2 linked regions of the Homo sapiens genome follow. The protein of the gene in region 1 interacts with the protein of each later gene in a biochemical or structural test. Each region holds a gene or a part of one and is shown in the gene's direction. Other genes may lie near its edges.

What was found.
Region 2: the proteins of PDZD9 (region 1) and DGKK interact in a test that uses a peptide from one of them, tested with the Homo sapiens proteins (one large-scale study listed by IntAct).

What each region holds. Positions count from the first base shown.
Region 1 is NC_000016.10:21,991,113-21,994,764, reverse strand, and holds part of PDZD9 (PDZ domain-containing protein 9), read left to right. Parts: intron 1-3,652.
Region 2 is NC_000023.11:50,387,193-50,390,844, reverse strand, and holds part of DGKK (diacylglycerol kinase kappa), read left to right. Parts: intron 1-435; coding exon 436-517; intron 518-2,226; coding exon 2,227-2,318; intron 2,319-3,191; coding exon 3,192-3,291; intron 3,292-3,652. UniProt on the Homo sapiens protein: Diacylglycerol kinase that converts diacylglycerol/DAG into phosphatidic acid/phosphatidate/PA and regulates the respective levels of these two bioactive lipids.

The sequences.
Region 1 (3,652 bases):
GGGATTCAGGGACCATGTTACTCCAGAGCTATGGCTCTCAGTGCGTAAAGATATTTTCTTTCGTAGGCAGTATTAAGCATTGCTAACACTTAGCTGCACGATCTCATTTCACTCTCACAATCCCTGAGCTAGATTCTGCATGAAACCACCTTGCAGACAAGGAATCAGATGTTTAGTAACTCTCCCATGGTCACTCTGAGGAGCTGGGATTTGAACCTTCTCTGTCAGACTTCAGAGCCTAAGGGCTTTACCAATACTGCCCTGCTCCTCGTGTCTTTGGGTGAATGAATTTTCCATGCAGTTCAAGAGGTGTTTTCTCAGTGCCTGGCCTGGGCCTAGTACTGTGCCCAGGAGTTGGGGAGGCAGAATGGGCTGGCGCCATGGTGAGAAAGAAAAAACATTGTGTTAGCTGTCCTGATTCAGGCTCAGGGTCTGACACTTTTTAGTTCTGTGACCCTGGGCAAAGCCACTTAACCTTTCAGGCCTTAGTCACCTCATCTTTGAATTGGGATATTCCTGTGTTTGTCAGAGGTTGCGCAGATTTGATGAAATAATGCATGTTTGTTTGATAGATGGGGTATCACTCTGTCACCCATGCTGGAGTGCAGTGGCTTGATCATGGCTCACTGCAGCCTTAAACTCCTTGGCTCAAGTGATCCTCCTGCTTCAGCCTCCTCAGTAGCTGGGACTCAGGCGTGCACCACCATGCCCAGCTAATTTTTATTTTATTTTTTATTTTTTTGTAGACATGGGCAATGGAGGTGGTGGGTGGGTGGTGTCTCACTATGTTGTCCAGGCTGGTCTCAAACTCCTGGCCTCAAGCAATCCTCCCATGTGGCCTCCAAAAGTACTGGGATTACAGGTGTGAGCCATTGAGCCCAACCTGATGAAATAATTTTTATGAAAGTGCTTTTAAAACTGAAGTGCTACAGAAATATTGGCAATCATCTCTTAGGCTGTTCTTACAGATTCTCTAGACTTTTGCATGTGTGTGTTTTAATAAAAAATGATGGCTGTATGGGGGTCCCAGTGGATTAAGCCACTGGTTTGCAACTCTGGTTACCTGTTAGAATCATCTGGGAAGTTTTTAAAACCAAGATGCCTGGTCCCTATCTCCCTACAGGTTTTTGATTCAATCGTTCTTGGACTGGGACAGGGCAGTTTATGTTTTAAAAGCTCCTCAGGTGATTCTAATTTGCAGCTAAGGGTTCCAAGCAATGGATTAAAGAAGAAAGCAGATACATAATGGTTTTATGAAACAGTTTGCTATACCTTAAAATCCAAAGCATTTTCCCCACACATCACTACTTGGTGGTGGAGAATAAACGGCGGCCGGTGGAGAGTTCTGGACTTACCAGAACAAAAGAACTCCAGGACAGGTCCCATGGGGAAGCTGCTGCTTCTCAGCTTCTTCAAGGTCAGGTGACAGATGCTGGGTGATGATCCGGGTGCATACTCCAGGGTGCTAGAGTGGGACAGGAGTATGCTTTTAGGTGGGCAACAGAGAATCTCATGGCACGGCTATAGTTAGTGGGCTCTTTGAGGTTAGAAGCAGTCTTGAATTTCATCTTTTAAATCCAGGACTCACCTACTGTATTAGTGCATTCTTACACTGCTGTAAAGATACTGCCTGAGACTGGATAATTTATAAATGAAGGAGGTTTAATTGACTCACAGTTCCGTACGGCTGGGGTGGCCTCAGGAAACTTACAATCATAGTGGAAGAGGAATCAGGCATTTTCTTCACAAGGCGGCAGGAGGGAGTGTGAGTGTGTGAAGGAGGAGCTGTCAAACACTCATAAAACCATCAGATCTCATGAGAACTCACTCACTATCATGACAGCATGGGGGAAACCACCCCCGTGATCCAATCACCTCCCTCCCTCCACAGGTGGGGATTACAATCGGCAATGACATTTGGATGGGGACACAGAACCAAACCATATTGTTCTGCCCCTCCATCTGCAAGCTGAAGAGCAGGGAAGCCAATAGTGGCTCAGTCCGAGTCCCAAAACCTCAAAAGTTGGGAAGCCGACAGTGTAGCCTCCAGTCTGTGGCTGAAGGCCTGAGAAACCCTGGCAAAACACTGGTGTAAGTCCAAGAGTCCAAAAGCCAAAGAACTTGAGTCTGATGTTCGAGGGCAGGAAGCATCCAGCACAGGAGAAAGATGAAGGCTGGAAGACTCAGCAAGTCTGCTCATTCCACCTTTTTCCACCTGCTTTTTCTAGCCTTGCTGGTAGCTGATTGGATGGTGCCTACCCAGATTGAGGGTTGGGTCTGCCTCTCCAAGTCCATTGACTCAAATGTTAATCTTTTCTGGCAACACCTTCACAGACACACCCAGAAACAATACTTTGCATCCTTTGAACCGATCAAGTTGACAATATTAACCGTCACACCTAAAGTAGTGGCTCATTTGTTATGTCTTTGCTTAATAAATAAATAATAAATATTTGTCCTAGGCATTGTGGGAGATATTTCCCCATCTATTATCTTTTTTTAACTCCAATTTTTAATTTTATTTGAATAAGAGACATGGTCTCACTGTCACACAGGCTGGAGTGCAGGAGTGCAGTGGCGCAATCATAGCTCACTGCAGCCTCGAACCCCTGGGCTCAAGCAATCCTCCTGCCTCAGTCTCCCAAAGTGCTGGGATTACAGGCATGAGCCACTTCACCTGGCCCCACGTGTTATCTAATTTAAAGTTTGCAACACTCCTGAAATGTAGATAATGAAATACAGAGGCGTAGAGAGATGAAATAACTTGTTCATCTTAGTTACACAACTGAGTCTGTGTTCAGAGCTGGGATTTGAACCGATGTGTGCCTAGAAAGCCCATACCTTTCTAGTCAATTGCCTAACAACTAGAAATGAGATTTGAATACAGAGGAAGTCCAGAGCCCCAAATCTCTTCGTGACAAGCCTGCCAGTTCTCCTCGGCATCATTCTAGGCTTTAAAATCTGTAACTCAGTGGTTTTAGACAATGATGATAAGATCTCGAGAGATGATAATTGTAGAAACATGCTATTTCTTTGACCCCGTTTCCTCCCAGCCCCATTATCTTTTATCTATGTGCTGAAATTTCTCTCCTTTGGTGTTTCAGGATAGGGTTTCACCTTGATTTCCTAATTTAGTTTAGTGTTAGTTTATTCTGGCTAAACTTTTAGTTCCTTTTGGGCAGTATGGCCTTAACAGATTCTGACATTCTAAGTCTTGAGAAATTAATGTAGGCCGGGTGCGATAGCACACACCTGGAATCTCAGCACTTTGAGAAGCTGAGGCGGGCAAATTGAGCTCAGGAGTTCGAGACCAGCTGGGGCAACATGACAAAACCCCATTTCAATAAAAAATACAAAAACTAGCCCAACATGGTGGGCATATGCGCTTGCAGTCCCAGCTCCTCCAGGGGCTGAGGCAGGAGGGTTGCTTGAGCCCTGGAGGTCGAGGCTGCAGTGAGCTGTATTTGTATCCCTGCATTCCAGCCTGGGTGACAAAGTGAGACCCTGTCTCAGGAGAAAAAAAAAAAAAGAAATTAATGTAGCTTCAACAGTAAATACAAGTCATGGACTGGCTACTGCCTAAGCAGTTCCTAAAGGCCTGGTGTGTGCAGACACCCAGCTAGGCACTGGGGGTGTAGTGGTGAACGGCACA
Region 2 (3,652 bases), on another chromosome or scaffold:
ACTTTCTATGCTGGTGTATATAGGAGCATTTGATTTATTGCTGCCCATAAGGATCTCCTGGGGAGCTTTTTAAAAACATCAACCTGAACCCCACCACAAAGATTCAGTAGGTCTTGGCAGGGCCCTGGAATGTGTATTGTACAAAAGCACCTCAGATGATCTTGATGGTTACCTCTGGTTAAGAAGCACTGCTCTCTGAGAACCCTGTAAAGGGAAGGCAATTCCTTCCATCACACTGGCCTACAGAAGTCATGAGACAGAGGTCCCTCTTATGGTCACCTTGAGATCAGGTGACCAGAGATTGCTTGGACACCCCCTACAACCCACCTCCCCCCACCACATAAACATTTTTACTTCTGTCTTCACCTTTGAAGCACTAATTTTTACCAGTCATGAAACAGACCCTTAAATATCCGTCTTTGAAATTCATTTCAGATGGAGTGTGATGATTCGTGAGACTCCCAGACAAACCCCGCTGCTAAAAGGACAGGTTGAAATGGATGTACCACGATTTGAGGTAACTACTGTTCAGCTGTAATTCAGACCAATATCTTTATTACTCAGTGAAATAATTGGCAAAACCCAGAGAGAAGCTTTTGCATTGTGCATGGATGAGGATGAGATCATTGAGAGTTGGTGACATGTCAGTCAGCAGCTATTTACCAAGAACTATGTTAAGCACTGGGGATATAATTCATTCACTCATTTACTTATTCATTCAAAATATTTATGGAGTAACTACTTTATGTGAGATATTATTCTAGGAGATGTTCTTATATGCTACTGGGTAAAGAAGAATGACATAGTCTACTTGAATAGATGGAAAAATAAATTGTTTTAATCAAGTAGTATGAGTGTTAGTATATAAGGAAGTAGAGGGGGTTGGGAACACATAGCAGGAAGATCTATCTCAGTCTGGGGAAATCAGGGAAAGCCGCTCAGAAGGAGTGCCATTTCACAAGATACTTGAGATCCAGAGGGAATTAACCAGGAGAATAAGAAAGGGGAGGGCTGTTCCACACAGATGGAACAGCGTGTATTGTTCCAAAGGCAAGGGAGAGCATGGAATATTCACGAAACTGAAGTACATTCATAATGGCTGAGGCGTAGGGGCCAGGAAGGGGGCATTCAGGGAGAGTGACTAAAGATGAGGCTAGAGAAGTAATCAGGGGCCAGGCCAGAAAGGGCCTGATAAACCACAGTAGGAAGTTTGGATTTCATCCTAAGAGCAATAAGAATTACAGAAGATTTTTTTCTTATCTTATTATGAAAATTTCTACATTGATGAAAGTTAAAATGGTAGCTCTACTACTAACATTTTCCTATGCGTGCTTTATCACATATCCAGTCATCTATCCAGTCTGCTATCTAAGAGAAGGGGTTTAAGTAGAGGAGTGCCATGGTATGTGGAGAAACAATTGAAGGAATAAAAGACTAGAGGCAAAGAGAAAAGCTAGGAGATGTTGTAATTGTCTAGGCAAGAGGTGATGGTGATTTGGACTGGTGAAGTGGTAGCAGGGATGAGTAGCAGTGGATACATTTGAGACATACTCAAAAAATAGAATTATCAAGTCTTGGTAGATGTTTGAATGTCAAGGGTGATAGAGAGGAAGGAGTAGAAGTTGTAATTAAGAGCACAGACTCAAGAGCCAGACTACCTGGAATTGAATCCTGGCTCTACAATTTATCATCTTTCCCTTCTCTGGGCTCAGCTTTCTCTTCTGTGAAATGGAGATAATAACAGTCTTTATCTCATAGGGTTGTTATGAGGATTATATGAAAAAATATACATGTAGCTTAGAACAGAGCCTGGCACATAGTCAGTACTATATAAGTGGGTGCTGTTATTATTGGTAGTAATATTATTAAAGAAGTTACATTCTGGAATTGGAAAGATGTAGATTCGAATCCAGCTTTATTCCTTACTAGCTATGTAATATGAGATTGTTTGTTCATTTGAAACATGAAAGAAATAGTACCTCCTTCATATGAGGTTTTGATTATTAAGAGAAAATGAAATACATCTAAATTTTTAGAATACGCATAGATCTAAGATCATCTCTGTTGACCTTCAACAAGAATTCTTTGATCATTATCATTTCCAGAGAGGCAGTTGAGTTGCGGGTAGAGTCAGTAAGAAACAATGAGGCTGCAGGGGATGAGGATGGGCAGCACACTGTGTTATTGTACTAAGATTCCAGGGCTAAGAACTCCTTTTGCCCCTAGGCTGCTGCCATCCAACACTTAGAATCTGCAGCCACCGAGTTGAACAAAATCCTGAAGGCCAAGTACCCCACAGAGATGATCATCGCAACCAGGTCAGTCTTCCTTTGGCTCTCATCCTTTGGGGCTGTTCCCAGGTCAGACATGGGGCTCATTTTGATAGCTGAGGGTGTTGAGGCCAAGGAAAATACATGTTTATGTTCCCAAATCAGATTTCTCCCAACTCAAACCCCCTGAATGGAAAGTTTAGGAAAGAAAGATGACATTGAGGTGAAGTCGTCTGCTGCTCCAAAAAGTCAAAATTGCAAGCCAGAGATTTGGGAAGAGAATTATAGTAGGGAAACACAACATTATAGACCATTTAGGAGCATAGCATAGCTCCCTATAGTATAGACACCTTGCTTTCCGTCTTTGACATTAAGAAAGGTCTCTGCAATATCTGCCTATAGCTGCTTTCTCATAACCTGAGGAACACATTCCCCCTTCTAAATATGTGGGTCATTTGTTTCTTCTGGGACTTCTTAGGGGGCTCCTGCCCAGTCGACTACACTCTCCTTTGAGAAAAACTTCCCACAGGGAGAGTCCTCCCAATATAATTGTTTGTACTAAATTAGCTGGGCCCTTGAAACATAGCTGATTGAACCTAGGTGAAAACCTGACCCAAGTTGGACCAAGTGAATTCTCTTTTCTGGAAATTCAGAATTAGTACTAAGAAATGCTGGTCAAGCTCTATTAGGTTCTTGACTTGGGAAGTGGTGTGACACTGAACTAAAGTGGGGATGGAACATATTTCACCATATGCACAGGAAAAAAAAAGCAGAGAGAAAAAGGCTGGGAGCAGAGGGTGAGAGAAAGAGGACAGATCAGGAAAGAGAGAGAGGAGGAGGATGGGGACTGATGACATAAGAGAGAAGGGCTCTGGGCCTCATGGTTCATGTAACATTGTGCCATCTATTTTATCTTTCCAGATTCTTGTGTTCAGCTGTGGAAGATTTTGTGGTTGATATTGTAAAGGCCTGGGGTCAGATAAAACAGAACAACACTGCAATAGTGTCTGTGATTTTGAAAGTAAGTTCCCATTCCTTTTGTCTTATACTCTTTGTGGAGCAGCCAGGGGCCCTTTTTAATAAAAAGCAAACATGCCTCTCACTGGGAATGGTAAAAGAAAGGAAAGGAGGGGCAGCTGTTAAGCCTCCCTGATGAGGAAGGTCTAACCTCATTGAACTTCCATCTTTTGCTAAATGAAGGATGGCGCTCTGCATGCATACACACATACCATGTACATGCCAAGCATCTGCCCACAACTAGACACAAGTGTACATCAAGCAGGTATGTGCATGGTTGTACACCAGAACATGCTTACAAGTATGTACATACGAATACACACTACAAATACATTCACATTTACCTCTCTAACAACAATAGCCAA